Linked DNA regions of Homo sapiens: regions 2, 3, 4, 5 and 6 are each linked to region 1. The links come from fine-mapping of genetic effects on gene expression. A gene starts in region 1. Each other region holds a variant in brackets. All regions are shown on one strand. Distances are from middle to middle. Region 1 holds the start of INF2 (inverted formin 2). Region 2 overlaps AKT1 (AKT serine/threonine kinase 1). Region 3 overlaps AHNAK2 (AHNAK nucleoprotein 2). Region 4 overlaps INF2 (inverted formin 2). Region 5 holds the start of LOC124903396 (a long non-coding RNA gene). Region 6 overlaps AKT1 (AKT serine/threonine kinase 1).

Region 1 (5,215 bases):
TAGCAACAAGGGCTGGGGGGCCTCGGCCTCCAGCTACTCTGTGGGGCCAGCCCATTTGCACCCTGACCCCCAGTAAGTGCCCTGCACCTGCCTGGCACCGTGCTGAGCGGGGCTGGGCTCCAGGCTCTGGGCACAAGGGCAGATGCACACAGTAGGGGCTTTATCAGCACCTCCTGGCAGAATGGATGGCACTGAGTGTAAAATGGCACCGACTGTCCCGCGCCTCACCTGTGAAATGAACGCTCCTGCAGGACCCACGTCGCACTGGGAGGGATGAGGGTGGGAGACCGTGCGGAGGGACCCCGCAGGCTGGCTCATTCCTTTCCTCCTCACCCACTCACCCAGCACACAGACCCTGCCCAGGCTGGCGTGAATGGTGAGTGGACAGACCCGGCCTGAGGCTGGCCCTCGGGGACTGACATGAGCCCTCAGAGGGGCGACCCTAAGCAACCCCTGTGGTTCCTTATTTAATTACAGCTTAGAAAGGGCTGTGAGAGAGGACGGCCCCTCAGGAGAGGACAGGCACCACCGGTCTGCCCTGCTCTCCTGGCCTGGTGGTTGCCAGGGTATACCGGCACTGGGCTGGGGGGCAGCTGTGTGAGCAGACCTCACCCCAGCTCAGGACCCAGGCTGTCTGGGTGCTCAGAGGCAGACCAGGCAGGACTCTCCCTCCTAGGGTGAGGCTGGCAGGAGTGGAAGCCTCTCTAACAGGGGGCCAGGTGGTTGGACCCTGCTCACCCCTCCAGCGACGGGGAGCCCGTGCCCCTGCCCTCTCTCCTTCCCACCGTTGGTAGAACTTAGTCTTTGACTTTAGGTGTCCACTAGGCCTGGGTCTGCTGTGGCCCCTGGGGACCACCCTCCAGAGACTGGCTCCTATGTGGCCTCCACCTCCCGGCCTTCCCGTCCACCATCCTGAAAACAGAGGTGGGTGTGCCTTCTCCAATGTAATGTGTCCACTGGGCCATGAACCACACACCTATCAGACACCTGCTGTTTGCAAGATGGAGGTAGGGGAGGGGCTGGCAGCAGGGAGTCAGGTCTCATTCCTGACTACAGGGAAATTTGACCTCCAGGCACCAGCAAAAAGCCAGGGGCTTGAGCTTACTTCACTGTCCCCGTCCAGAGCTGGGCCAGCTGCGTCCTGCCCCACACCCACAGGCAGCACCGCATCACTTTCCAGTCACCACCCACCCCTCCCGCAGCCTGCATGAACCGCATAACTTTTCCAACCCAGGAAGTAACTGCACTTTGATGGAAGGCGCAGAGTCTATTTCAGGTAGGAGCTTCCACGTCCCCACATGTGCGGTGTGTGTCATTCGCTTGACAGCCGTCAGCTCCTCCACAAAGTGGGCGCTCACCTGAAGGTTAACTCAGGAGCCCTGGCTGTGGAGGCTACAGTCGCACCTGGCCACTTGGTCCGTCCCCACTAGCGACATCCCCTTTGCCGGGCTGCAGGGCCCATGACAGTCCAGGGATGGGAGGGCAGGGCCTGGGCAGGGCCCACTGCACCAACCTGGCTTTTAGAACAGAAAATTGCTGCTGCCCTGGTAGGGGTGGGAGCAGTGTGAGGTCTCAGACCCCAGGCCTGGAACCCAATGCTACTATTTGCTGCACTGGGGGCTGAGCACCGACACCCCAAAAGCCCCTGGCTGGGTGGCACCCTCGGGGTCTGAGGCACTGCTCTGGGACCCCACCTTCCCAGTGCAGGGCGGCAGGGAGCAGGTCCCAGCCTGAGCTGCTGTCCCACCCTTCAGAGTGCAGATGTGGAAACTGAGGCCGGAAGAGGGCGAGTATCCTGCTCCATTCCAGTGCCAGACGGAGGGGCAGGGCTGGCAGTAAGGGAATTTCCTACGTCCAGCGCCTTCTGGGTGTGCCTGACCTCTGGCCCGGTTCCTGGGTTCCTGGTTCCCTGCCTGGGCAGGGTCTCTGCCTCTCTGCCTCCTGGTGTGTCCAGCTGGAGTGGGCAGTAATGCTGTGGTCACAGCTGAGCTGCGGGAGCCCTGGGTGGGGAGCTTGAGCCCCAGAAGGCCCAGACAGACAGACCACCCCCCACGCCTGTGCTCCCCAGGGGGCATTGGGGACGGTCAGGGACACAGCTGGTCACCCCGCCTTCCCCTCCTTAGTCATGGTCACTCCTGGGGCGACTCCCCAGTTAGAGGGTTGACGGGTGGGTCTGGGGGCGTACAGGGATTGGATCCTACCCCACCCAAAAGGAACAGAGAGCTGTGATGGAGGCTGATTCCCCTAAGCCTGCCAGCGGTTGCGGGGTGGGAAGGGCTCCCTGTGCGCCCACCTGCGCGTGGGCAGCTGGAAGCCAAGCAGTCAGGGTGGGGCCGCAGGCCGGCGCGCACCTCGGGGTGCCACCCGGGCGGCGGACCCGAAGTTGAAGTTTATTTTCCCAACTGTGGCTGATTCATGGTCAGGATGTGGCAGCCGCGAGGCGCGGAAATCCCGCCTGCCCTGGGAGTAGGCCCGGCCGACCCTGGGCCCACCACTCTGCGGCCAGTGCGCGCTCGGGCGGTGCCTCGGCGCGGAGGACCATAGTCCCGAGCGGGGCGCGCGGAGCCGGGGGGGCCAGGGGCGCCCTGGGGTCCCCGCCCGGGAACTGTACCCTGCGCCGCCGGACCGCCCGCCGCCACCTGGGCACACACGCCGCAGCCCGGAACCTCGCTCCTGGACCCAAGCACGCCCCTGCCTCCTCCCGGACTCAGTTTCCCCTGAAGCTCCAAGCGGACCCCGAGGCCAAGGACTTACCCGGTGAGGCAACGGCCAGAGGGCGGTGGTGCGGCCGGCGCTCCGTCCGGGGCCGGGTCAGGGGCTGCGGGCAGCCGGCGCCCACTGCCGCGCTCCGCAAGGCTCGGACGGTGGCTCCTGGCGGGCGCGGGGCGGGCGGGGCGGGCGGGAGGAAGAGGAGGTGCCGCCCCGCCCGTCAGCGGCCACGTGGGGAGCGAGCGCGGGCCGGGGGCGGGGCCTGGGGGGGGAGGTGGGTGGCTGGGGGTGGCCCCGCCCACTGTGGCCGGTCCCTGAGGGCGCTTTAAGGGGTCTCCCCACTCCCGTGAATAACCTGGCCGCCCCCTCGCGGTCCCTGCTGGCCTGGCTCCTGGTGGGCGGAGATGGGGGTGGGACGCGCAGATCGGGGCCGTCTCCCGCCTCAGCCCCCACTGTCCGCCCCGTCCCTGCCCTCCACCGCCTCCCGTCCACCTACACCCCTATCCTCCGGTGGGACTGGCCTCCCAGGCGCCGCTCACCTCTCTCTGCCCCGGCCCGGGACTCCCGTTCCAGCCAGCCGGATCCGGAGTCCCCGCGTTCGGGGATCCCTCAGCAGAGATGGCTCTTCCCAGGCTTTGGGGAGAGAGAGCCTACCCATCAACCAGGCCACCCATGTGGCCTCCTCTCCGCAGCCCTGCCTGACCCCCTTCCACCCTTGATGGGGTCTCGGCGGTCTTGGGCAGCCGCACTTCGCCGGTTGGTGGAGACAGCTGCATGAGGGCCGCGGAGGTGTCGCAATGGGGTGGGTTTTCTCTGCCACCCCTCTGCTGTCCGGCCTCATCTGTCTCCTAGATTGAGGGGGGCACCCATCCCCCCACCGCCGACATTGACCAGCATGGGGCGTGCCCATAGTCGGCTCTGAAAGCCAGCCTGGTTGGATGAGAGCCAGACCCCAGCTCTGGAAGTCCCTTCTGACGTCTGACCCTCAGTCAGAGCTGCAGGAAGCAGCGCACCAGGCCTGGGGTTTGGGGGCCACTGGCAGCTAGAGGGAGGGCAGAGGAAGGCAGGCCTGGGGGAGCCCCCGTGTGACATGTGACAGAGCAGACACAACCCCTGCCCTGAGAACCGGCGCCAGCACTCCCTGTGCGGCCTCAGGCTCGGATATGACTCTGTGGAGCCTCAGTTTCCCCATCTGTAAAATAGAATAAGTACCCGTAAGGGCTGTATGAGGGTCAAGAACATGCGGATAAAGTGTCTCCACTCGGAGTCCTGACATCTCTCTCCGGAGGGCCTGCTGTGTGGGCCGTGGCGGCCAGGGCTCAGGGTGAGGGCGAGGGGAGAGAAAAGGGCTCCTGAATGGCTTCCCAGCCCCGATGCAGCTTCTGCTTTGAGGCCAGCTGCGTGTCCTTTGGCTTTGGTGTGCCTCCGCTCCGGTGGGGATAAGCGCCGAATTGCAGGCTGCGTCTGTCTGCTCCCTGTGCGGACCTTGCCCTGCCCAGCAGCCCCAGCCCCGGAAGTTTGCTGGCTCAGCCCCAGTGCAGGAGCAGCTGCAGGCCACAGCCCCGGGTGTGCCTGAGGAGCCAGCCAAGGCAGGCGCTCACTGGACACCCTCCAACCTGGGCGGCCGCTGCTCCTAGACAGGCACTCTGCAATTCTTGGAATGCACCTGGAAGGCCGGCCTCCGGCCCTCCACACCGGGCTCCAGGGCCCCTTCCAGAGCAGAAGGCCTTCCTGCCCTCCCTCAAGCTGGGCTTTGGGTCTCCTGGTGCACTCCTGGACCCGAACATTGGTGCCTGCCCTGGTACCACCCCACCCTGGAGGGCACGGGCGGGGCTGACTCATCTGCGTTGGGAGCTGATGCCTGGCAGCGGTGCTGGGCAGTGGGTGTGTTTGTTGATCCAGTGAATGGAGGAATGTGAGGAGGTTGGTGGGGAGTGAGCTTTGACCTGCAGCCCCCTCCCCTGTCCACCTGCCTGGGGGAAAGTCAGAGTCCTGAGCCTTACTCAGAGGCTGGAGTAGGAGGTCAGGTGTGGGCGAGGGGTCCACCTTTCCTGCCCTGATGGGGGAGGGAGGCCCAGCGCCCCCAGGGCCGCTCCTGCCTGGGGCTGTCTCCCTTGCACCCAGTCGTGCTTCCGAGCTGCACACCTGGTCCAGAGAGGCCAGCACAGGCCGGAGCAGGGTGAAGAAGGTGGGGTGAATGTGATTTAGTTGGAGAGAGGTTGGAGAAGTCCCTGGGGTCGGCAGGGAGTGCAGAGGAGGGCTTTGGGCCCTGATTAAGAGTGTGTGTCTGTGTGTGTGTGTGTGTATGTGTGTGTGTGTGTGTGGAGTGGAGGCCGAGGTCAGAGGTCTGGGAGGGTGGAAATGTGGACACTGAAAGGGGGTTTTCCGTCAGGCTTGAACCCACCATGCCCGGGGCAGCAGGGTTCAACCCGGCTTGAGCACTGATTTTCTGAGACATACAGAGGCCCCCTCCTCTTCTCCTTCAGTGGCTCACCCTCAACCCTCT
Region 2 (4,524 bases), 82 kb before region 1:
GCCCTGCCTGCCAGGCTTTTGTTGAGGCCCGGGCTCTGTCCTGCAGAACCTGTTCTGGGGACTTGGCCCAGGAGGTATTTACTGTGAAGGGGGCCAGGGTCCAGCCACTTGGTTAGTTCCAGGTCACTGTGTTTGGGGACGATTCTCCTGCAGATGGGGCCTTTGCTTTAAAAGCACAGTCGCCTGTGGTGGAAGGCGGGAGGGTGGGTCTCGCCTGGGAGGGTGTGTCCTCCCTTTGCGAAGGCCCTGGTGCTGGGAGCACTGTCCCCTGCTGAGGTCCCAACTCACCCTGGAGGACCTGAGCCCAGGCCACCTTGCTCACCTTTCAAACACTCCTTGGCACCTCAGGGGCTGCCGGGGCCCAGCCTGATGGTGGCGTGGCATGAGGCAGTGTGGTGTGGGGCAGTGTGGTGTGGGGCAGCGTGGCATGGGGGCAGTGTGATGTGGGGGTGTATGGTGTGGGGCAGTGTGATGGGGTGTGTGGTGTGGGGCAGTGTGGTATCGGGCGGTGTGGTATCAGGCAGCGTGGTGTCGGGCAGTGTGGTGTGGGGCTACGGGCGGTGTGGTATCAGGCGACGTGGTATCAAGCAGCGTGGTGTCGGGCAGCGTGGTGCGGGGCTGCCGTCCTGCCTGTGGGGCCGCAGTTCCAGCTCCCCTTCCTTGCAGGCCCTGAAGTACTCTTTCCAGACCCACGACCGCCTCTGCTTTGTCATGGAGTACGCCAACGGGGGCGAGGTAGGGGCTGGGGCTGCGGGGGATGGACTTCGCGGCCTGTGGGCCGCCCATGGTGGGGCCGGTCCTTCCCGGAGCCTCGGCTACTCTCCATGGCACCAGACGGTGCTCCCTGCTGGGTGGGTGGTGTGATGCCTGCCCAGGCAGCTGCCTGCTGTGGGGTGACTTGTTCCTGCTGAGTTAGGGCTTCTGAGACTTTCCAGGCCCCCGTGCCCTCTGGTGGCTGGTCCCTTCCCTGTGCAATGCCGAGACCCGGTCTGAGAAACCCCAGCCCTGCAGGCCATGGGGGCAGAGGCCCGAGCCACGGCTGTGCCTCAGGTTGCGCCTCCCGCAGCTGTTCTTCCACCTGTCCCGGGAGCGTGTGTTCTCCGAGGACCGGGCCCGCTTCTATGGCGCTGAGATTGTGTCAGCCCTGGACTACCTGCACTCGGAGAAGAACGTGGTGTACCGGGACCTCAAGGTGCGCTGGCGGGCAGGCAGGGGGGCAGGGCCCTGGGGGCCTGGCGGCACTGACCTGAGGCCACCTTTCCCCTAGCTGGAGAACCTCATGCTGGACAAGGACGGGCACATTAAGATCACAGACTTCGGGCTGTGCAAGGAGGGGATCAAGGACGGTGCCACCATGAAGACCTTTTGCGGCACACCTGAGTACCTGGCCCCCGAGGTGTGCGCCCCACCTGCGTGCATACGCGTTGCTGCGTCCCCACGTCCTGAGCACACGCAATGCTGTGTCCTCTCTGTGCCCCAAGCACGTCACACCTCCCCCGGCAGTGTCCCGGACACCCCTTGATGCCGAGTCCTGCCCATCTGCCACCCGTGCAGGTGCTGGAGGACAATGACTACGGCCGTGCAGTGGACTGGTGGGGGCTGGGCGTGGTCATGTACGAGATGATGTGCGGTCGCCTGCCCTTCTACAACCAGGACCATGAGAAGCTTTTTGAGCTCATCCTCATGGAGGAGATCCGCTTCCCGCGCACGCTTGGTCCCGAGGCCAAGTCCTTGCTTTCAGGGCTGCTCAAGAAGGACCCCAAGCAGAGGTGAGGGCCGCCCATCCCAGCTACAGGCTACACCTCCATCCCCTCATCCCCAGGCTGCACCTGCCCCTGCGCCAGGCGGTCCTGGCACCTCCCAGACTACACTGATAGCCAAAGCTTGATGTCCTTGGCCAGGGCTGATCTCCAAAGCCTCAGGCCCAAGCAGAGTGGCGGGCAGGCCGGGGTCAGTTGGGCCTCTGTCCCCAACCCTGCAGCCTGCACCCACCCACTCAGGAAGCCCCTGCCCTGCCGTGAGCTCTGTGGTGCTTTGCTACCCACAGCTGCTCAGGGACGCTGCACCACCGGCTCCCCTCCCTGGCCCCGGAACGTCCTGTCTGGCGGGCCCTACATCACAGGAGGAAGGGGCCTGAACCCAGGGCCTGGGCAGGTGGCGGTACCGACACTGTGGCCTTGTTTCCTGCCTGCAGGCTTGGCGGGGGCTCCGAGGACGCCAAGGAGATCATGCAGCATCGCTTCTTTGCCGGTATCGTGTGGCAGCACGTGTACGAGAAGAAGGTGCGGCTGCTCCCCGCATATTCACGCGCACGCATGCTCCCCACATATCCACACTCACGCATGCACGTGGCACGCTCGCCAGATTTCCCACACAC[TCGCC/C]CTCACCTCAGGAGCCTGCTGCAGTCCTGGTACAAGGAGGGCCTTGCTGCACCAACCTCAGCGCCTGGTGCTCAGAGGCTCTGGCACTGCCGGGTTCCACCAGGAAACTGGCCTGGTCCTCATTTCCTCCTCCCCTCGGAGGTGTGTCACACTCTGAGTTTCCTCCTCCCCTCGGAGGTGTGTCACACTCTGAGTGCCAGCCTTGGGGTTCCCTTCCCTGACGCTGTGCAGTGAAGGCTGGCTGGTGGTGGACCAGGGGTGCTGCCCCTTGGCCTCCACGAGTTCCTCCTGTTTGACCTCAATCCCTTCTGCCGCAAGGAGAGCCCAGCCCTATTTCTGGCTGTGCAGGGACAGGGACAGCACCTACTTTTCTGGCACATGGGGGAGTCCGCCCTGGAGGGAGGCAGCTCTTTCTGCATGAGTCGCCATCCTGGGTGCTCATCTTTCAGGGACCCTAGGAGCCCTGGCCATCACCCCAGCTGATGGGGTCTGCCAGCTGGGTTCGGAAGCCTGCACTCTGAGATGCTGGGTGCCCTGTCACCAGGTGTGCTTCTGCCCCGTTCCCAGCCTGCCCCTCCCCTGAATGCCTGTCCTAGGCTGTGTGCAGCTGGTCGGGCTGGGCAGCCCTGGGACCCAGCTGGGCACCTGTTCTCCCATTAACACAGGGTGCCCTGGTCCTGGTCCCCGTTCCTGCCTTGAGGCCTGCCACCCTCCTGCCCTGCCCTCCAAGGGTATGGGGGGCCTGGGCAGTGCTCAACCTCTGCCCAGCCTTGACCAGAGACCTTGCTAATTGACAATGGACAATGCTGGTGCCCAGCCCAGACTCTGGGGTGGGGCAGTGCTTGAGGGGGTCCTTGACTGTGGGACCTGAGGGGCTCTCTGGCAGCTCCTCACGTGTGCACATCACCTTATAGTCACCCTTCATCCTGGGTCATTGAGAGTCCTGTCTGCAGCCAGATGCCAGCAGGCTGTGGTCCTGTAGTCCCTGAGCCATGGAGGCAGGGTGGGCTCATCCTGTGCACCTTGTTCCACAGTCTCCCTCTTTCCCAATTTACAAGAAGACCAATAAGAAAAATAAGAAAACAAGAAAGAAAAAGGAAAAATAAAGTTATCACCTCCTGGTAGCAGGGAGGGTCTCTCAGAGCTGGGCTGCACTACCTCCTGTCGCCTGCTGGGGCTGCTGTGAGGGCAGCTTTGCGTCTCAGCTGTTGAGGGTTGTCTCCGTGCTCCTGCACCCCTCATGTCCCTCCCTCCCAGAGCTGCCTCTGTGGGGGGCTGGTGGCTTGCTGCTCTCTGACATCAGTCCTGCCTGGAGACCCCTTGGAGATCCAGGTGCTTTGAAGGTCTTGAGCACACTTGAGGGTGTGCTGGGAGTGGGGAGCGAAGCTCATGACTGTCCCGTCTGCCCACCTCTGCAGCTCAGCCCACCCTTCAAGCCCCAGGTCACGTCGGAGACTGACACCAGGTATTTTGATGAGGAGTTCACGGCCCAGATGATCACCATCACACCACCTGACCAAGGTGAGGGGCCACTGCCTGCCCCCGCCCACTCCCTTTTCTCTCCACACTCAGAGAGGCCTGCAGTGTTCAGCTTTTTTGGCTTCAGATGTTTTAAAATCTAAATATTTAAAAAGGTTCCTTTTGGAGAGTGCCAATGATCAGGGTGGGAGGCAGTGCTCTGAGGGCCCAGGTCCCTGTGTCAATCTGTGGGGCCCTGTCTCAGTTTCCTGGCAGTATGGCAGCGTGCTGGCCGTGCTTTAAGAGGTTGGCTTCCTACTGGAGCTGTGGGTGGGTGGAGGTGGCAGGGAGGTGGGGCACCGGGGTCTGAGCTGTCTACACCCACAGATGACAGCATGGAGTGTGTGGACAGCGAGCGCAGGCCCCACTTCCCCCAGTTCTCCTACTCGGCCAGCGGCACGGCCTGAGGCGGCGGTGGACTGCGCTGGACGATAGCTTGGAGGGATGGAGAGGCGGCCTCGTGCCATGATCTGTATTTAATGGTTTTTATTTCTCGGGTGCATTTGAGAGAAGCCACGCTGTCCTCTCGAGCCCAGATGGAAAGACGTTTTTGTGCTGTGGGCAGCACCCTCCCCCGCAGCGGGGTAGGGAAGAAAACTATCCTGCGGGTTTTAATTTATTTCAT
Region 3 (5,215 bases), 250 kb before region 1:
CCATGATTCCTGTTTCTCTTGGTCAGGTATCTTTTCCTAAATTCTATAAACCAAAGTTTGTGTTTTCAGTCCCCCAAATGGCAGTTCCTGAGGGAGACCTACATGCAGCAGTGGGTGCCCCAGTCATGTCTCCTCTTAGCCCTGGAGAAAGAGTGCAGTGCCCCTTGCCAAGCACCCAGCTGCCATCCCCAGGCACCTGTGTGTCTCAGGGCCCAGAAGAGCTTGTGGCCTCCTTGCAGACATCAGTAGTGGCCCCTGGAGAAGCCCCTTCTGAAGATGCTGACCACGAAGGGAAAGGGAGTCCCTTGAAAATGCCTAAGATTAAGCTTCCATCATTTAGGTGGTCCCCGAAGAAGGAAACAGGGCCAAAGGTGGACCCAGAATGCAGCGTGGAGGACTCAAAACTCAGCCTGGTTTTAGACAAGGATGAAGTGGCCCCGCAGTCTGCCATCCACATGGATCTGCCTCCTGAGAGGGATGGAGAGAAGGGGAGGAGCACAAAGCCTGGCTTTGCCATGCCAAAACTTGCACTTCCCAAAATGAAGGCTTCTAAGAGTGGGGTCAGCCTGCCACAGAGAGACGTGGATCCTTCCCTTTCTAGTGCCACAGCAGGGGGTAGCTTTCAAGACACAGAAAAGGCCAGCAGTGACGGTGGTAGGGGAGGACTTGGTGCAACAGCAAGTGCCACAGGAAGTGAGGGTGTGAACCTCCACCGGCCACAGGTCCACATTCCCAGTTTGGGCTTTGCCAAACCTGATCTCAGATCCTCCAAGGCCAAGGTGGAGGTGAGCCAGCCTGAAGCTGACCTGCCTCTTCCCAAACATGATCTGTCTACCGAAGGTGACAGCAGAGGATGTGGGCTCGGGGATGTCCCAGTGAGCCAGCCTTGTGGGGAGGGGATAGCCCCCACACCTGAAGATCCCCTCCAGCCATCCTGTAGAAAACCAGATGCTGAAGTCCTCACAGTGGAAAGCCCAGAGGAGGAAGCCATGACCAAGTACTCGCAGGAAAGCTGGTTTAAAATGCCCAAGTTCCGCATGCCCAGCCTTAGGCGCTCTTTCAGGGACAGAGGCGGGGCTGGAAAGCTGGAAGTGGCTCAGACACAGGCACCGGCAGCAACAGGGGGTGAAGCAGCAGCTAAAGTCAAAGAGTTCCTTGTTTCTGGGTCAAACGTGGAGGCAGCTATGTCCCTACAGCTCCCAGAGGCAGATGCAGAAGTGACAGCTTCTGAGAGCAAATCATCCACAGATATTCTAAGGTGTGATCTTGACAGCACAGGCTTGAAGCTGCACCTCTCCACTGCTGGGATGACTGGGGATGAGCTTTCCACTTCTGAGGTCAGGATCCATCCATCCAAAGGACCTCTCCCTTTTCAGATGCCTGGCATGAGGCTTCCAGAAACCCAGGTTCTTCCAGGAGAAATAGATGAGACTCCTCTTTCCAAGCCAGGACATGACCTTGCCAGCATGGAGGATAAAACAGAGAAATGGTCTTCCCAGCCTGAAGGTCCACTTAAATTGAAAGCTTCAAGTACTGATATGCCATCCCAGATTTCTGTGGTTAATGTGGATCAACTGTGGGAAGATTCTGTCCTAACTGTCAAATTCCCCAAATTAATGGTACCAAGGTTCTCCTTCCCTGCCCCCAGCTCAGAGGATGATGTGTTCATCCCCACTGTGAGGGAAGTGCAGTGTCCAGAGGCCAATATTGATACAGCCCTTTGTAAGGAAAGTCCGGGGCTCTGGGGAGCCAGCATCCTGAAGGCAGGTGCTGGGGTCCCTGGGGAGCAGCCTGTGGACCTTAACCTGCCTTTGGAAGCTCCCCCAATTTCAAAGGTCAGAGTGCATATTCAGGGTGCTCAGGTTGAAAGTCAAGAGGTCACTATACACAGCATAGTGACACCAGAGTTTGTAGATCTCTCAGTACCCAGGACTTTTTCCACTCAGATTGTGCGGGAATCAGAGATCCCCACGTCAGAGATTCAAACACCTTCGTACGGATTTTCCTTATTAAAAGTGAAAATCCCAGAGCCCCACACGCAGGCTAGAGTGTACACAACAATGACTCAACACTCTAGGACTCAGGAGGGCACAGAAGAGGCTCCCATACAAGCCACCCCAGGAGTAGACTCCATTTCTGGAGATCT[C/T]CAGCCTGACACTGGAGAACCATTTGAGATGATCTCTTCCAGCGTCAATGTACTGGGACAGCAAACACTCACATTTGAAGTTCCTTCTGGCCACCAGCTTGCAGACAGCTGTTCAGATGAGGAGCCAGCAGAAATTCTTGAGTTTCCCCCTGATGATAGCCAAGAGGCAACCACACCACTGGCAGATGAAGGCAGGGCTCCAAAAGACAAACCAGAAAGTAAAAAATCTGGTCTGCTCTGGTTTTGGCTTCCAAACATTGGGTTTTCCTCTTCTGTTGATGAGACAGGTGTTGATTCCAAAAATGACGTCCAGAGATCTGCTCCCATTCAAACACAGCCTGAGGCACGACCAGAGGCAGAACTGCCTAAAAAACAGGAGAAGGCAGGCTGGTTCCGATTTCCCAAATTAGGGTTCTCCTCATCTCCTACCAAGAAAAGCAAAAGCACCGAAGATGGGGCAGAGCTGGAAGAACAAAAACTTCAAGAAGAAACAATCACGTTTTTTGATGCCCGAGAAAGTTTCTCCCCTGAAGAGAAGGAAGAGGGTGAACTGATCGGGCCTGTGGGCACTGGGCTGGACTCCAGAGTGATGGTGACATCCGCGGCAAGAACAGAGTTAATCCTGCCCGAGCAGGACAGAAAAGCTGACGATGAAAGCAAAGGGTCAGGCCTGGGACCAAATGAAGGCTGAGAGGTATGGCTCATCAGTACAAGAGAGATGCAAAAAACTAAGTTGGAAAGTAAAGGCTACACACACATATGGAGCACCCCATCCCACAGCACATTACATCCACCTCACTTCACAGAACGGAGAACAGAGCAGAAATGACCAGAACACCTTTGTCACCATCACACAGCCCTCCTAAAATGGAACCAAAGCTTCCCAGCTCCCTCAAAGCTTTGGATGCAAAGAAGGCACCCTGACTTCCACAAGACACCAGAATTCACACGGTACTCAGAGGCACTGCTGGGGAAGTTTGTTGGTCTTTATTAGATAAATTTCCAGAGACCTGTCCATAATACCCAACAGAACATGACTGTTTCTTTGAGGAAAGGGTTATAATGTCTGTGGTGTACAAGTCGTTTTTGGTATAACTTCTTTCCTGCTGCTGCTGCTTCCCGGCAAACATAGTTTTCCTATTTCAGGCAGAGTGCGGTATATTCCAGGAAACACTGTTTCCTACTCACTTAGCTTACTTCTTTGTTGAATGCCTCACTAATGGCAAGTTTCAAGATGTTTTGGGTGACAATGCACACATGCTGGGCAAAAGGGTGATGGCCAGTGGCTGGCAGCTGGGCCAGCAGAAGCTAGGACATCTGTGAGTTGTCATTCTCATCTATCCATGTCCACTGGCCTGCCAGCATCCGCCAGTGCCTTGCCAGTGTGCACGGTCCCACACTGTGGCCCCTGAGTCCCCTAATGTACACGCTGCAGCCAGAATGCAGATGGAGCTGGCTTGGCTGTTCCCTGGATGGGCAATAAAGAAAGTGCTGCATCCCATGCTGAAGGCTGCTGAGGTCTTCTGTCTCAGGGTCGAAGTTTACCAGGGCTTTCCTCCCACACACTCCTGGTCTCTACTAAGCAGCTCTAGAGAACAGTCAATGAGGAACATTTGGGTGGTTGCCTACCTATCATCCATTTGTCCAGGTCCTCCTCTGAGCCAGAGGCTGTGAGGAAGACAAGGAAGATAGGGCTGAGTTCACAGTGTGGCAGGGACACAGACGTACAACCCTCCCTCCCTCCCTCCAGCTGGAGGCAGTGTGGGATGGGAGATGGAGTGCAGAGTGGGGACAGCACAGAAAGGTGACCTTGGCCATCTTTAGTGGCCCATCCTCAGAAGCTTCCTTCACCACAGAGGCGCTCTTGGGCAGCCCACAGGAAGCAAATCCACGTGGCGTAGCGGATTGAGGTTCAAGGGTTTCCCTACAGTCTTTCAGTGGTCAAATCTCTTCCCAGATGCCCCTGCCAGATTCATGGGTATGCAGTGTTCAAGGGGGCAGTTGGAACTTGCCCCCAGCTCCCTCCTGGCCTAGGTGGGCTCCTGGTGAGAAGCGCTTATGGCCCCCTGGGGAGGTGGCTGCTCTCATGGCTGTGGATATGGGAGCAAGAGCTGGGCTGTGAGCCAATCTGGAGGACCGCAGTGCCTGGAGGGTGAAGGCCACTCCGAGGCTACCACTCGTGCTGCCCTGAGAGGTTCCAGAGGGGTGACAGCTATGGGGTGCAGGAGCCTGGGCAGGGGAGAGGCTGGGTTCTTTCCCCATGCCACCATGGGCATATGTTCCCTGTGCTGAGTTGGGGAGGCCCGTGGGTGTCATCCAAGTTAGGGCACATAGAAGCCTCTAGAAAGTGAACTGACACAGGTCCCCTGGGGGCTCATGAGCAGGGGAAGTGGGAAGGGAAATTTGGTGGACACTCATCCCAGTTAAGCAAGGCCATCACCCTCTCCCTTCCCAGGGCTTCCTGCCTTCTCTACTCCAACTTGTGTGTGCCAGACAAGCTAGGTGAGTGCAGCCCAGGGGGAGGAGTCTGCTTGGCTCCATGGGGCTTTTGTCCCTCTCTGATCCAAGAGTCAAGGCCTGGGATAGTGGGGACCTTGGTGCTAGAGGCCAGAGAGACAGCTGTCCCAGCATGTGAGGAGTGGCTGAGCAGCAGGGGCCCCCACAGGGTTCTCGCGTGGCCTTGGTTCTCTGTGTATGAGTTATCTATGCTGCATAAGAACATCACTACAAATTAGCAACTTAAAACAACACACATTTATGATCTCCCAGTTTCTGTGGATCAGGAGCCCAAGTGTGGCTTTGTTGGGTTCTCTGCTCAAGGTCCCATTAGGCTACAATCAAGATGTCAGCTGGGGCTGTGGTCTCCCCTTCAGGTATGACCAGGAAAGCAGCCACTTCTGAAGCTCACGTTGTTGCTAGCCACACTCAACTCCTTGTGGATGGGATGATTGAGGGCCCCAGTTTCTTGCTAGTTGGGGGCTGGAGGCAACCCCAGTACCCTGCTACATGGGCCTCTTCATAGGACAGCTCATAGCCTAGCAGCTCACTTTTTAAAGCTAGCAAGGGATA
Region 4 (5,215 bases), 22 kb before region 1:
TCCTGCAGGGTTACTGGTGGCCACTGGATGGAGGGACACACCAGTGAAGGGCAGGCACCCTGCCCCCGAGCCAGCCCAGGTGCAGCCTCCTCCATTCCGCTGTCTACCTGAACGCCCTGCAAAACCTCCTCCCCAGAAAGCCTCCTCTGATGTCTCAGAGCAGGACCCGGCCTCAGCGTCCTTGGTCTGTCTACACTGTGGCAGGGTGGGGGACACTGGGCCATGCCATTCCCAGCACCCTGAGGCAGCCACCCCAGGAATGGGGTCCTCCCACCAGGGCCTTGCCGCCTGCCTTTCCTGCCACCTCTAGCACCCTCTGAGCCCAAGGGCATCGGTCAGTGGGCCTGGCCTCATCTCTCTGGAGCCCAGCGGGCTGGACTGCTGCTTCAGCACTGAGGGCAGGGCCTGCGGTTACAGTGGAGGAGCTGGAGTGAGTGGAGGGAGGGATGAGGGCTGAGCGGCCACCACCTGTCCCCTCGGCTGTCCCCAGTCTTAGGGGCCTCCAGGGTGGCCCAGGGAGAGGAGAGGGCTTTCCAGTGAAGTCAGGAGGACTTCCTGGAGGCACAGGGTAGGGACAGTGGCAAGGGGACCATGAGGAGGCAGTGGGAGAGGGTCTTACCAGGCTCTGTGGCTCTTGGGGGATCCATGGAGGCTGCCTTGCTGCCCCCGTCGGTGTCCCCGCGGCCCCGGGCTGTCTTCCGCAGCTGGAAGCCCTTCCTGATGTCAGCCAGCAGGGCATCGATGACACACACCTCCTCCTGCTTCCCGGGCCCCTTCCTGACTGAGGAGCGTGGGGCACTCAGAGAGCGGCATGGGACCCTGGAGCCCACCTAGAGGGCTGGGGGTGGTGGGGAGGCTGGAGCACAGACAAGGATCCCAGAGTCACCCCCTCCCCGCCCAGCCGGCCCAGCCTCACCAGGCTTCCCGTCCTCTCCCCGAGGCCGCCGCGCCTCCTCCTCCGCCAGCTGCTGCTTCCTCCTCTCTGCCTTCGCCGCCTGCTCCTTCCGGTCCTTGTTCTCCTGCACTGGCAGATGTGGCCCCGTCACCCCAGCGTGGCATCCCTCAGGGGCTCCATGGGCCTGGGCGTCCCCCTCCCTGAGCCGCAGCAGCGCAGGGCCCACATGGCTGTGTCGGCCCGACGAAAGGTGCCTCTGCCCATCCTGCCGGAGGAAGGCCAGGGGCCTCGGGACCCCACTCTAGCCAGACAGGCTGTGTCCCGCCGGGCTGCCCCACCTTCAGGGCGCGGAGGAAAAGGTCCCGGAAAGCCTTCATGGTGCTGAACGTGTCCTCCAGGGACAGCTGCTGGGCGTCCTCACACAGGTAGTCGGCCAGCTCCCGTTGCTTCTGCTCGATGGCCTCAAACAGCTCATCCAGTGCCCGGAAGGCCGAGATGCTGGCCTGGGGGCAAGGGCACGTGACAGTCCCGTGAGAGCCCCGCGCGGGCACCACCCGGGGTGAGGCCCTGAGTTGCGGGAGGGTGACGGCCACAGGGACAGGCCCTGAGGACGGTGGTCTCTGACAAGGAGCAGGGGCCTGTGCCCTGACCATGCACACCTGGGGAAACTCGGGCCCCAGGATCCACCCTGGAGCCAGGAGACAGCACAGCCACTCGCCCAGCTCACTCTATCAGGGCAGCCTCTCCCGCCAGCCCCAGGCCCAGGTGCCCACTTGCCTGGAGGCGCTCGGTGTACTGCTCCTGGACCTCGGCCACGGAGGCAGACACCTTCCGCTCGGTCTCCAGAAGCTTCTTCAGGTTGGAGCTGGCCTCTGAGCGGATGATCTCCAGGTTGATCCTGAAAGGTGAGGAGGGCCGGGCAGAGACAGCAACGGCTGACGTCAGCCTCGCTGGGACAGGGGAGCCCCTCCCCTGCACCCCCCGGCACCCCACTGTGCACCCTGCAGGCTGTACTCTGAGGCTGCACGTGCAGTGTTGGGGTTGAGTGCCTGTTCCAGCTGACCCTCAGCCCCCTGTGAGCATCTGGGCGGGGACCCTAACGGTCAGCCTGTCCTGCTTGCCTAGTTCTCCCCAAGGCTGAGCAGCTCCTGAGCCAGAGAACCTTCCAGGGCAGGTGGAGCCCGGGAAGAACTCCGTGCTAGGGGCCCGGACTGTGTAGTGGGGTGGCCCAGGCTGCCCTCCTGCCTGGGTTGTGTGACCCAGGAGGTGACACTGCTTTCCTGGGCCTCCGTTTCCTCATCTATACAATGAGGGAGGCCCGAGCCTGCTCACGGCTGTC[G/A]TGAAGGTCCACCTTGTGAAGGGGCTGTATTAGACCTGCCCGTGGTGTGACCCTGACCTGGCCAGCCCTTGCCCACTCTAGGCCTGTTTCCTCGCTTAAGTCAGAAGGGGATAGGCCACGGCAGACCCGGTCCTGTCCCAAAAGGGAAGTGTTCTATTGGGCAGGGCTCCGTGGCGCCGGGGCTGCGCTGCAGCTGTGAGACCCAGCCCTGGCGGGCAGCCACCTCACTGCCTGGGGACAGAAGTCAGGCCCCCACCTGGCTGAGGTGGGCGGGCTGGCAGGAGCTACCTACCCTGCTGCTTGCGAGGGCTGTTCCAGGTCCCGGGGCAGCTGCAGGAGGTCGGGGTGGCTCTTTTCCGCTTCCTGCAATGGGACACGTCCAGTGAGATCCACTGTGGTCATACTCTCCACCTGGGGATGACCCTGTTCCCACTCCCCCAGCTCTAACCCTTAGCAATTAAGGTCCAGAAAACCCCCAGTACTCCAGACCCTCAAATCTTTCCCTTGGGCCTGGCTATGACTTTGTGATGTTTCTGCTTTTCCTAGGGACTGTCCCCCAGATCAGGGACAGGTATCCTGGGGAGGGACAAGGCTCGTGCAGGGGAGCCAGTGCTGCAGGAAGGAAGGGGTGCTGGGAGGGGTGGGGGCGTGGCTCTGACTGAGGCTGCTGGCTCTAGACGGAGCCCTGAGACAGGGAGACCGGCGGCCTGAGTGGTGGGCATGGGGGTATGGCCTCTACGCCTCTACACCCCAGGTCCGGGGGGACTTGAAGCCCTCCCATTATGCCCCCGCCACCACGGCCCACCTCCAGCACGTGGTGCAGCAGCGTCACGCGGTTCTGCTGGGACTTGGTCTCCGTGAGCTTCAGCAATGTGCTGATCTTGAAGCCGTCGGCGTCACCGGTGTGGCTGCCCTGGGAGGGGCAGGGAGTGAGTCTCACCAGCCCCTGGCACCAGGTGGGATGGGGAGCTGCCCCTGACTTACGTAGTTGAGGAAGTTCCCAATTCTCAGGATCAGCTGGCAGAAGATGGGCAGCTGGCGGCTGGTGAGCAGGCCTGCAGGGGCAGCCAGGGCTGGAGAGGGGCTCTTGGTTCGGAGCCCCCAGATGCCCTGGCGGTGGGGTGTGGTCCTGCTTGCCAGTGCCCCTGCACTCCCTGGCTCCTCCCCAGGCTCAGCCCAGCACCGGAAGGATCACAGGACAGGGCCTGGGGGCTGCAAACCCTCCACCGACGGGAGTGGACACCTACAGTGTGCCTGACAGACGTGAGCTGTGCCTCACTGGTCCGTACCTGTCCCTCTCCCTGCCCAGTGGCTGTGGCAGGTCCCCATGGATTCCCCTTTCAGAGATGGTGCCCGTGTGTGTGCACTTATGTCTGTACATGTATGTGAGGGTGTGTGTGTTGGGGGGGTGTGTACGTGTGTCTGTGTGTCCTGTGTGCATGTGTGTGACTGTGCTTGTGGGCTTGTGTGTGTGCACGTGCCCGAGTGGCGGTGTGCATGCGTGTGTGCACGTGCCTGAGTGGCGGTGTGCTTGTGTGTGCGCGTGCCGGAGAGTGGCAGTGTGCTTGTGTGTGTGCACGTGCCCGAGTGGCGGTGGGCATGCGTGTGTCTGTGCGTCCAGTAGGTGTGTGCACCGAGGTGGTGGCAGCAGGGTGGTTTCCGGAGTGGTGGTGAAGGCTGGCACCCTTAGGTGCTCTTAGCAGCCATTATGATACTGGCAGTAGCAGGGGCCCCGAGCAGCCCTCCCGCCCCGGTTCGGAGGCCTGTCCCTCCTGCACACGTGCCCCGCTTGGCCCCACTCACTTTCGCAGGCAGCCAGCACCAGCTGGGCCTTGGGCCGCACCATGTCCAGCACGGCGGCCGCGCCCTCACACAGCAGCATGCACTCGATTCGCAGCTGGTAGCTGGGGATGGCACAGACAGGGATCAGTGGCCTGCACCCCCCACCTGTCCCTGCCAGAGGGGCACTCAGCACAGGGCTCTGGCTTGGGTGGTGGGCAAAGGGAGGGGGTTTCCACCGCCTGCCCCATCCAACAGGCACCCTCCCGGGCCTGCGCAGAGCAGGATCCAATTCCTCCAGAGGCCTCCAGCCCCACACTTTGAGGGGAAGGACTGGGGGTGGGGCTCGAGTGATGTTTAGAAGCCCAACCGCTGCAATGCTGCTCCTGGAGCCCGGGGCAGCCATTGGCACAGCCTCTTCTCCTCCCTGGCTGGGCCCTGCTCCCTATTCCTGCTCTCCTCCCACCTGGGGCCCAGGCCCTGGGGTCTGAGGGCGGCCATGCTCACCAGGGAATGGCCAGCAGGAGGAGGTAGAAGTGGTCGGCGCTGGCCAGCTTGGCTCGCTCCTCTGTGAATGCCCGCAGGTTTTCAATCTGCCAGGAGGAGAACGGCATGTGGGATCCCCCCATGCCAGCTTCCCGCCCTCCCGGACTGCCCGCCGGGCTCAGCCCCTCCAGTGCCCATCATGGCTCCCTGTGGCTCACGGTTCAGGGCAGAGGTAGGGCTGGGATGCCTCCCTTCTCTGTCTCCCTGCTGGGAGCCCCCGGGACAGCCTCTCCCTTGGTTGGTGGCACTAACTGGGGGTGGGGTGTGGGGGTGGTCCTCTTACCTCGTGCTTCTCGGGAAGGAGCTTAAGGAGTTGTTTGAGAACCTCCACATCAAACTTGGTGGTATCTCCAGCCCGGATCATAGCAGCGACCTCCTCGTTGGAGCTGGAGCAGGGAGAGGACCGGGCAGGGGTGAGTGAATCATGAGTCACCCCCACCCAGCCTCTTTGGGACCCCACCTGGCAGGGTTTCCCCACGTAGTCATGGGGTGGCCAGGGCAGGGGGGACACAGAACAGTCGAGTTGTTGCCCACGGTCACGCGGTGAAGGGGACCCAGGCTGACTCCCACCCTCGCTACCCTCCATGGGCCCTGCTCAGGAGATGCAGGATGGGTCGGGTCCAGCCAGCTCCCTCGGGCCAGTGCTGGACACCCGC
Region 5 (4,000 bases), 49 kb before region 1:
CACCTTGAGCCTTTTGAGTTGGCCTTCAATGTCTATTTCCAGGGTGGGGAACATCGACTGGTGCTGGTGGGCCAGGTTCTTGAATCTGCACAAGGGACAGTCATCATCACCCCCTGTCATGGTCCATGCTGGTCCTCAGGGCCCTCCCCACTAGCCACAGTCCCTTCCGGCAACTTCTCCCCATCCTCCCCGGGGACTGCAGACGGCTCAGGTACCTGGAGGAAAACTCATCAAAATCTGACAGGAGGTCGCAGATGCGGAGGCCTGTCCGGGCAGCTTTGGAAGAGTAGGTTGGTCCGATTCCCTTCTTGGTGGTGCCTATACTGAAAGATGGGGAGTGGGTACCCATGAGAACCCAGGAGCCCTGAGGAGCTCAGGCATCCCACTGAGGCCATGACCCCCGCCGGCTCATGACTCCAGTGCCCACCATTGCTGCCTGTGTCTGGCTGAGCTGTGAGTGTGTGCGTGTGTGGGTGTACGCACTAGCATGGATGTACTGGTATGGTGTGTGCCTGTGGGTGGATGTGTGCATGTGGAGTGTGTGCATGTGTGGCTGTGTGTACTTTTGTGCATTTGCGTGGGTGTGTGGGCTTGTGTGGCGTGTGCACATGTGCATAACTGTGCGAGCATGCGTGGGCGTGTGGTGTGTATGTAAGAGCATGAGTGTGTGCCTGTGTGAGAGTGTGAGTGGGTAAGTGTGTGACCATCACCTCTCTGAGGCAGGACACTCATCTGCTTCACTCCTGTGTCCTTGGCACATCTGAGGTTCTACTAAACTGCTTTAGTGTTCCTCGTGTCTTCCCTGGGGCCGTGTGGAGTCAGGAAAGGTGGTGGGTGTGACAGGTGACGGTAGGGCTTATGCACTCCTGGGGGGAGCCGCGTGGCAGTGGCAGCCGGCAAGGACAGTGTGCAACCCCAGAGAGAGACGGGCTGGCTCGTCCGGGGGTTGGGTGATGCGCTGTGGAATTTTGACGGTGCCATTCTCCAGGGGCTTTGAGTGGGTTGAGGTACCCTCCTCGTTGTGCCCAGGACCAGACACGCCCCACAGTCTACCGGCTTACGGGCCCAGAAGACTCCCCGAGGGTGAGAGTGTCCCGGCAGACTTACTTCTTCCCCTCTTGTGCCTGGCGCTGCACTTCCTGAAGTCCGTCGACAGCCTGGTGAAAATCAAACACTGTCGGGCGGGCCAGGTGAGGGCAGCAGGAGACAGGAGAGAAGCAGAGGACAGATGTGTATACATGGACCTCACCTCCTGCTGGCCTGAGTCTCCTGGGAAGGGGGTGGTTGAGATTTCAAAGAGGACAAACTGGGGTGTGACCATGAGTGTCTGGGGCTCAGTCTCCCCACCTGCAAATGGGCTAGTGACCCCTGACCCAGCTCCCAACTTGAAGCTCTTTGAAAAGGGTAATGTACAAGCTAATGGAGCCATGTGGAGCAAGAAGGCCTTGGGGACTTCCCTGATCTCGGTGGCCATGTAGGAGCAGGGCCGGCTGGCAATGGTGGGGGCAGGAGGGGCTGTTCCCTGTACTCCAGTGGGAAACGTACCAAGGTGGGCTCTGTCAGAGATGATGAGCCTCTTCTCCCAGTCCTTCAGGCCTGCGGGGACACGGCACACAGGTGGGTCAGTGTTCACAGGTGCGCTGCAGCTCACACGTGAGGGGCCAGAGCTGGGCTAGCTCGCCCGGCTCCCATCCAGGTAAGGCATGCAGGGAGGAGGCTGACAGGGCCACCTCTGTTGCGCAGCAAGCGGCAGACCCGCCCCTCGTTGTCTCCTCCCCAGCTGAGACTCCCGGACCCTCACTCCACCCCGCCGCCAGGATGCCCACTCTCGTGCCTGCAGGCTTCGCCCACTCCAGGCTGGGAAGCCAGAGCTGGTGTGAGTGCCCGGCTTTCCTCCCTAGCTGCTGCCACTCTGAAGGTGACCTGCCCCCTCAGGGCCTCAGTCTGGGTACCCCCTGGTGCCCATGTCCCCAGAATCACATTCTTGCTCTTTTCA[C/T]ACCCGTCCCGCCCTTGAGCCTGAGGCTGCAGCTCAGCGTCCTCCCAGACCCACTCAGGCTGCCGTCCGTCCCTGCCCACACTAGGTCTGACTTGCCCACACCCCCAGCTGGTGGGTCTGGCCTCTGCGTGCCTGGCCAGATGCTCCGCAGAGCCCCCAGGAGCCACATCCTTCCCTGCAGGCATAGTTAGGCCAGCAGTCCCCACTTCCCACTGGGTGTCTGGTCCAGGTCCCTGGCTCCTTCCTGGACTTCCCAGGTGCTACCTGGCCCCGTGATGCTGAGGCCACCAGCATCTGAGGCCTCTGGGTTGCCCAGCTCACTCGCTTTCTGCGCGGGTAGAGCCGGCGGGTGATGAGCTGGGCCAGCTATGTTGGGAACCCACCCCTGCCAGTCCCCTCCGTGGGAGAAACCCTCAGGAAGGCTCCAGCCAACAACCGCTCAGGGCACCGCGTCTGGGACAGGGCAAGTCTGCAGGAGCTTGGACCTACCTTTCTTTTCATTCTTCTCTGCTTCCTCAAACAAGCCTGGCAAGTGGATGACCACCCCGTTGCCTGCATGAGAGACAGAGGCATGAGAGACAGAGTTGTGTCCCAGACACTGGAAAACATACATTAAGAACAGCATGAAATGGGTGGGTGCGGTGGCTCATGCCTGTAATCCTAGCACTTTGGGAGGCTGAGGCAGGAGGATCACTTGAGGTCAGGAGTTCGAAACCAGCCTGGCCCACATGGTGAAACCCCATCTCTAGTAAAAATACAAAAAATTATCTTGGCATGGTGGCGCATGCCTGTAATCTCAGCTACTCGGGAGGCTGAGGCAGGAGAATCGCTTGAACCTGGGAGGCGGAGGTTGCAGTGAGCTGAGATCCTGCCACTGCACTCTGGGTGACAGAGCGAGACTCCGTCTCAAAAAACAAACAAGCAAACAAACAACAACAAAAAACAACCCAGCATGAAATGGGCACACCTATGTTCATAGCAGCATTATTCAGAGTAGCCAAGAGCTGTCCATTGACAGATGAATGGGTAAGCAGAACACGGTCTACCCATACGATGGAAGAGTATTCAGCCTTAAAAAAGGAAGGAAATTCTGACACAGGCCTCGAAGACATTATGCTGAGTGAAATAAGGCAGTTACAAACGGACACAAACAGGATGATTCCGCTTATATGAAGTCCCTGGAAAAGTGAAATTCATAGAGATAGAAAGTAGAATGGGAGGCGCCAGGGGCTGGGAGAGGGAGACTGGGGAGTTATTTGATATTTCAGCATTTCAGTGTGTGAAGATAAGAAAGTTCTGGAGGTGGATGGTGGTGATGGATGCAAAACACATTCCTCGGTATTTAAGGAGCTGGAAATTGATGTCCCTGCAGAAACCTGCGCGTAGATGTGCAGCTCTATTCATAATCGCCGAAACTCGGCAGCAGTCAAGAGGCCCATCAGTAAACAAAAGGAGAAATCAACTGTGGTCCATCCAGACAGTGGAGTATTATTCAACACTGAAAAGAAATGAGCTTTCAAGCCATGAAAAGACATAGAGGAAAGTTAAATGCATGTTACTGAGTGAAAGAAGCCAATCCGAAAAGGCGACATACTGTACAATTCCAACTCTGAGATTCTGGAAAAGGCAAAACTGAGGAGACAGCATAAGGTGAGTGGCTGCCGAGGGTTGAGGGGGGAGAGATGAATGAAATGGGTGGAGCTCGGGGGTTTTAGGACAGTAAAAAATTCTGTACGATACTATAGTGGCAGATACACAGCATACGTTTGTCCAGACTGGTAGAATGTACAGCACCAAGTGTGAACCCAGAGGTGACTATGTACTCTGGGTGATCATGACCTGTCAGTGTAGGTTCATCGATTGTCACAAATGCACCGCTCTGGTGGGGCATGGTGGCTCATGCCTATAATCCCAACATTTTGTGATGCTGAGGCAGGAGGATTGCCTGAGGCCAGGAGTTGGAGGCCAGCCTGGGTAACACAGCAAGACTCCATTTCTAAAAAA
Region 6 (5,215 bases), 97 kb before region 1:
GTGCAGCCCCGGCCTGGAGCCTGTTTTTGTCCACTCGCGGCTGTCTTCCTGAGCGTCCCCCCGTCCACATGGCTGGACCAAGTGGGTCAGGAGAGGGCCGAGGCGGGTGGCCGGGATGCTGGGACCCAGGATGAGGTGCTCTGGGCTCTCGAGAAAGGGCTGGGCCTAGGCCAGGAGTGGGTGCCGGCCGCAGGGGCACCACCTGGACTCCCTCAGGCTGGTCGCTGTCCGAGAGGGGCCGGGGAAGAGCTGCAGGCCTGGCTGCCTTCGGCAGGCTGTGACCCAGCAGGCCAAGGCCGAGTGGGCGGGGGTCGAGGGAAGCTGCCTGGGGCGCGTGGGTTACGCGGCAGACGCTCCTGAGTGTGTGGGCAGCGTGTCCAAGCCACGGATCTGGGTGCCTGGCCGGGCCCGGGTGACACGGGACCGTGTGTCCATGCGGCTCACGGAGGGTCCAGTCTCCGGACATCTGAGTCCTTGCCATGCCCTACCCCGGGCCCATGCCTGGCATAGACCCCCCAGTCCAGGCCTCAGGGCAGCCCCCTCACCACTCCTGCTGAGTTAGCCCCAGGCGTCCCGGTGGGGAGTATGGAGGCTGGTCTCTGACCCCAAGCAGGTGCCTAGGCTGGGCCTCCTTCCCACCCCCTCTCCCCGCCTTGAAGTCCTGGCACTGGCTGTCCCTGCGGGGGGGCACTGAGGCAGGGAGAGAGTGGTTCCTACCCCAGTGTGTTACTTCGCTTTGGTGAGCGACATAGAACCTCACTGCATCCCCAGCTGCTGCTCAGCCATCCAGCTGGTCCTGGGGTCCCTGCGTGAGGTGGGGGACCTCAGAGGGTACAGGCCACTCCCCTTCATCCTGGAGGAGGCCTTGGCTTTGCTGAGTAAACACCCTTGAGAAGAGGTCTGTGGGGGACTCTGAGCCCACTCCAGAGAGCAGCTGCTGCGGAGGGCCCCGCAGGGCTAATTGTTTGTGTGCAGATGGAGGCTGCTCATTACCCCGCCAGGATGAGGGGCCCAGCAGGACCCTGAGGGAGGGAGCCCGCAGACTCTCCCCTCAGCCTGTGGGAACCTTTGGGCTCCAGGCCAGGGCTGCCTGTGCCTCCTGGGCCTCAGTTTTTCCCAGGCTGTCAGGTGAGGGTCAACCCCAGGCTGCGTCTAGGTGGCTTCAGTGTGAGACCCGCGGGCCCTGGGCTGGTTAGTGCCAAGCTCTGCCTCCCCTGGGGGAGCGTTGAGGGTCTGGAACGGCCCCCGTGGGCAGGCCAGGGACAGAGATGGGGAGGCAAGTGTGCTGGCTCCTGGTGGGAGGGCTGGGCAGAGAGTGGGGGTCCCAACAGCCCTGGGCCTACCCGGGAGAGGGGCAGGAGGCACAGGCTGGTGGAGGTCATGGCATGGCTGTGGTGGAGGCCGCCAGCATCAGGGAGGTTCCTGTTTTGGGAGCTTGTTGAGTTCTCACTTCAAAAACAACAAAAGAGGAAGCCGAGGTGGCCTTGAGTGGGGGTGAGGGGTCACTGCTGGCCCCAGCCCTGGACCTTAGCCCCCACGCCTGGTGGCTCCTGAGTGGACAGCTCTTCTTCCTGTGTGTTTCTTGGTCACTGGCCCTCTCTGGGCAGGGATGCCCTGTGGGGGGCTGGACTCCGGGAAGGGAAACTGAGGCCCAGGAGAGTGGACAGAATGTGGGTGGAATGATTCCTGTGCTGGGGCCTAGACCCCCGTACACCTTCCACTCTCAGGAGAAGCCTGGCCGGGTTGCATCAGGCCGGGTTCCTAGAAGTCCTGCACGAGGCTGAGCGGAGGGAACTGGCGCGGCCCCCGCTGGCGTCCCCTCTGCCTGGGCACACCCGGCCCGGCTTGGGGCCAGCACCCTGCCCTCGGGCCCTCCCATAGCTGAGACTGGTGGCTGTGGCTGTGGCTCTGGGCCTGCTCCCCAGGCCACCCTGGGTGGGCAGCTGCCTGCTGCTTCTGTCTGCTTGGACCATTGTGCCTAGTCCCATGGCCTCAGGAGAAGGTTCCCCCAGCCCAGCGCTGGGGCCCCGGGCAGGTTGGCAGAGGGCCCTGGGGCTCCAGGCCAGGATGGGGCTGTTAGGCGAACCCTAGGCCCCTTACTTCCTCATCTCCAACGGGAGTTCCCTTCCCTGCCATGCCGCCTTTAGGTGTGTTTTCCTTGAACCTTAAGGAATGATAGGTTTGGATTTCAGAAACGTTGGAATTGAGGGGGTTGGGAGTTCATGGGTGACTCTGCTGCCAATGTTGCGGGCTTTGGGGTGGGATCCTTGGGGCGCTGTGTTTGGGCTCACACACCCCCCAGGCGGGCCCGGTGACTGCAGACCCCACCCATACCCTGTAACCTGGCGGGCCCACCTGCCCAGGCCCTCAGCTGGTTGTCCAGCTCAGGGGTGGAGACACCCCCTGGGCAGGCCTGGCGGGGAGGTGGCTGCTCCCTGGGCCTGGAGAATGCAGAGAGGCCCTTCGGCTGGCCAGGGTCTGGCTGGCCTCCCCACAGACTGGGGCCAGGGGCACAGCAGCCAGGTGTAGGGCGCGGAGACGCTGAGCTGCACAAGCTTGGTGAGGTGTGGGGTGAGGCCACGGGGGTCAGGGCCACAATGTCCCAGCAGGCCGGGGGATCAGAAGGAGCACCCTCCACAGCTGGCCGTGCTCTGGGGGCCCTCCTGCCCCAGGCGTGGCTCCAAGT[T/C]GGGGCAGAAACAAGATGGTGGGGAGATGGAAGGCCCCTCTGTGGCGGGTGCTTCCCATGGTCGGTGTGGAGGACGAGGTCCCTACTGCCTGGTTCCAGTTCCCCCAGCAATGCAGGGCACTTTTCCTGGGGTGTCAGGGATTGAGAGGCCAGCACTGGAGCCCTTCAACCGCCAGGGGCCCTGCCCAAGAGAGACGGGAGGAGGGAGGGGCTGTGGGCATGGCTGCGTGCCCCCGGCCGAGCCCCGGAAGGAGCCTGTGCCCGTGCCCACTTCCTTTCCCGAGGGCAGTGTCTACACGTGGGACACTGTGGCCAGCCCTCCCTCGCAGCAGGCACTGTGTGCTGTCCCCATGCCCAGCTTCCTCCCACGCAGGGAGCGAGGGTGAGGGCCCTGGGAACCCACTGGGTGGAGGGCACTTGGCAAAGCCTGCTGCAAGTTATGGGGAGAGTGGGCGGGGGCAGAGTAGGAGGCGCCAGGGAGGGGCTGCAGCCTCATCTGCAGGGGTCCTGAGTAGGCAGGGTGGGCCATGACATGGGTGGGGCTTGTTTGGGGCAGACCAAAAATGAGGTGGGGGACAGGGACAGGGACAGGGTCTTGGGATGTGCTGGGCTCTGCGATGGATGGGTGTGTGGCAGGTGGGGTGCCTTTGCCGGCCCGAGGGGTGGGTGACGGGCAGTGCCTGTGGGGGAGGACATCCAGGCCCAGGTGGTCTGTCAGGGGCAGCACCAGGGAGGCCCAGTACCCCACCCAGTAGAGCCCCAGGAGAATGGAAAGCTGAGACCCAGGTGCTTCCCTGGAGTGGCAGGAAGAGAGGCCCCAGCGCCTCCGGCTGTGCCTCAGCGAGGTGGACGGGGTCATGGTGGTGCCGCCTGCCCGCACCATGTTCCTCCCGGGGTGTGTGTGTCGGGCTGAGGCCTGCTCCATGGTGGAGCGGAAGGAGGTGAAGAATTTGCAGTTTGTGTCAAGTTACAACCCCTGCCTTGGCGGCAGGACCTGGGGTCTCTCTGGTCATGATCTGCCTCTGAGGGTCACCTCCCCTAAGTCTCCGTTTTCCCAGGGAGCTGATGGGCATGATGAGCCCTGCCCGCCCTGCCTGCCTGGTGGGCTTTCTGGGAGAGCAGAATGGGTCCTGGGCTGGGCGAGGCCCAGGCAGGTGGAGCGCCAGTCCTCTGCCTGGCGGGAACAGACACCTCTCCTTGTGCAGACTGGCCACTTGTGCCCCCTCAGAAGGGCTTGTGCCGGGAGGAGCAGTGGATGTATTTCACCCACAGACCTGGGGGCTCCAGCCAAGTGGGGTCAGCTGGCCTCCGTTGTGTGGCCCCTCCCCTGCCCCCACCCCAGCCTGGTTGTTTACAGGGTTCGAGGGCTGCTGGTAAAGGGGTGTGTACTCCCGGGCCCGGGCAGAGGCCTGGCAGGCCGGGCCCTTCGCGGTGAGCTGTGCGGTCTCCTGGCAGGCGGGGAGGGTGGGTTGCGGGCCCCTCATGGGCTGCCGTCAGCGGAGCCGTCTGCTCAATGTGCTGGAGAAGGTAAATGGGCCCCCGGCAGCTGTCGGGGCGATGGATGTGTCGGCAGTGGGGACCACGGTGGCCGCTGTCAGCTGGCGCCCGCTCCCAGGGCCTGCTGGGCTCACTTTGCTGTGGAGAAGCAGCTCGGTGCCGCCTGGCACCCTGCCAGCCGCTGCCACCACCGTCTCTGCGAAGTGTTTATCCAGCAGTTTCCTGAGAACTGGGGACTTTGAGAGAATGTTCAGGGAGCTGAGGACGTGGTGGCCTAGGGGGGCTGACACACCTGGTGGCTCAGGAGGTGGTCAGTCCCGGGACGTGGAGGGCCACCAGCTGGCCCTCAGGGGCCCACCCAGTCCTGCCCATGGCGCGTGGGTCCTGGCCCCCATGTCTAAGTGGGTGCCGCTTTGGGGGGCCTGACCCACAGTGTGGCCTGGGACACGTGTGTGAGGCGTGGAGAGGGTGGGCTGCCTGTGACTGTCCATGTGGTCCCCGTGGTGGTGGTGGGGTGGGTTGGGGGAGGCCAGGCAGGAGCAGCTTCCTCTCAGAACCCCGGTATTTGGTCCAGGAGGACTTCTGGGAAGGAACCCTCTTTCCCTGGGGGTGCTCCAGCCCCTTCCTGGGGATGAGCGGGGTTGGGGATGGAAGGTCACTCCTGCCGGAGGGCCACCCGGGACATCGGGATGCCAGAGGGACCAGGGCTGGGGTTGTGTGGGGCCCAGGAGGTGCAGGAGGAGTCGAGGGAGCCTGGTCTCCGCTGTCCCCCCGGGCAGGGACAGGAGTCTGGCCAACTGCCTACCCCCCACCGAGGGCAGCCACCTCCCATGCCTGGAGCCCTGGGCCATGGATGTGCTGGCTGGTGGGGAGGGTTACGGGTTTCATCAGGCACAGGAGCCCCTGCCCTTGTGGCTTCACAGGACCTGGTCTTGGATAGGTGCAGTGTCACAGGGTTAAGGGTCAGGGTGGCTCCCACCTGGCCCAGGGCTGGCCTTGAGAGAACCCTGAAGGGTGGGACCGGAGCTGCTG

The links.
Region 2: its variant is fine-mapped to the expression of INF2 in whole blood (INTERVAL, PIP above 0.99).
Region 3: its variant is fine-mapped to the expression of INF2 in whole blood (INTERVAL, PIP above 0.99).
Region 4: its variant is fine-mapped to the expression of INF2 in whole blood (TOPMed, PIP above 0.99).
Region 5: its variant is fine-mapped to the expression of INF2 in whole blood (TOPMed, PIP above 0.99).
Region 6: its variant is fine-mapped to the expression of INF2 in blood mononuclear cells (TOPMed, PIP 0.98).

The regions. Positions count from the first base shown.
Region 1 is chr14:104,687,279-104,692,493 of GRCh38, reverse strand. It overlaps INF2 (inverted formin 2), which reads right to left and starts at 2,876. Exons shown (of 23, transcript NM_022489.4): 1 at 2,755-2,876. RefSeq lists silencers at 2,363-2,412, 2,503-2,742, 2,763-2,852, 2,953-3,212 and enhancers at 2,905-3,894, 3,895-4,882.
Region 2 is chr14:104,770,123-104,774,646 of GRCh38, reverse strand. It overlaps AKT1 (AKT serine/threonine kinase 1), which reads left to right. Exons shown (of 15, transcript NM_001382430.1): 9 at 667-735; 10 at 1,067-1,192; 11 at 1,268-1,396; 12 at 1,555-1,769; 13 at 2,195-2,282; 14 at 3,800-3,902; 15 at 4,227-4,524. The coding sequence ends at 4,306. Among named protein-coding and RNA genes, the nearest start is that of SIVA1, 19 kb to the right of the region's middle. The variant TCGCC/C (reference allele first, on the strand shown) is at 2,378.
Region 3 is chr14:104,935,685-104,940,899 of GRCh38, reverse strand. It overlaps AHNAK2 (AHNAK nucleoprotein 2), which reads left to right. Exons shown (of 7, transcript NM_138420.4): 7 at 1-3,647. The coding sequence ends at 2,837. It also overlaps a transcript of PLD4 not described here. Among named protein-coding and RNA genes, the nearest start is that of PLD4, 13 kb to the right of the region's middle. RefSeq lists an enhancer at 905-1,405. The variant C/T (reference allele first, on the strand shown) is at 2,147.
Region 4 is chr14:104,709,011-104,714,225 of GRCh38, reverse strand. INF2 (inverted formin 2) reads right to left here. Exons shown (of 23, transcript NM_022489.4): 11 at 4,843-4,945; 12 at 4,521-4,606; 13 at 4,038-4,138; 14 at 3,219-3,289; 15 at 3,040-3,147; 16 at 2,527-2,597; 17 at 1,673-1,793; 18 at 1,234-1,398; 19 at 917-1,019; 20 at 620-781; 21 at 1-23. Among named protein-coding and RNA genes, the nearest start is that of ADSS1, 13 kb to the left of the region's middle. The variant G/A (reference allele first, on the strand shown) is at 2,235.
Region 5 is chr14:104,736,924-104,740,923 of GRCh38, reverse strand. It overlaps ADSS1 (adenylosuccinate synthase 1), which reads right to left. Exons shown (of 13, transcript NM_152328.5): 3 at 2,486-2,548; 4 at 1,546-1,596; 5 at 1,108-1,174; 6 at 216-323; 7 at 4-85. LOC124903396 (a long non-coding RNA gene) reads left to right here and starts at 3,410. Exons shown (of 3, transcript XR_007064365.1): 1 at 3,410-3,646. The variant C/T (reference allele first, on the strand shown) is at 1,997.
Region 6 is chr14:104,784,144-104,789,358 of GRCh38, reverse strand. The region is part of intron 3 of AKT1 (AKT serine/threonine kinase 1); the gene reads left to right. Among named protein-coding and RNA genes, the nearest start is that of AKT1, 9.0 kb to the left of the region's middle. The variant T/C (reference allele first, on the strand shown) is at 2,687.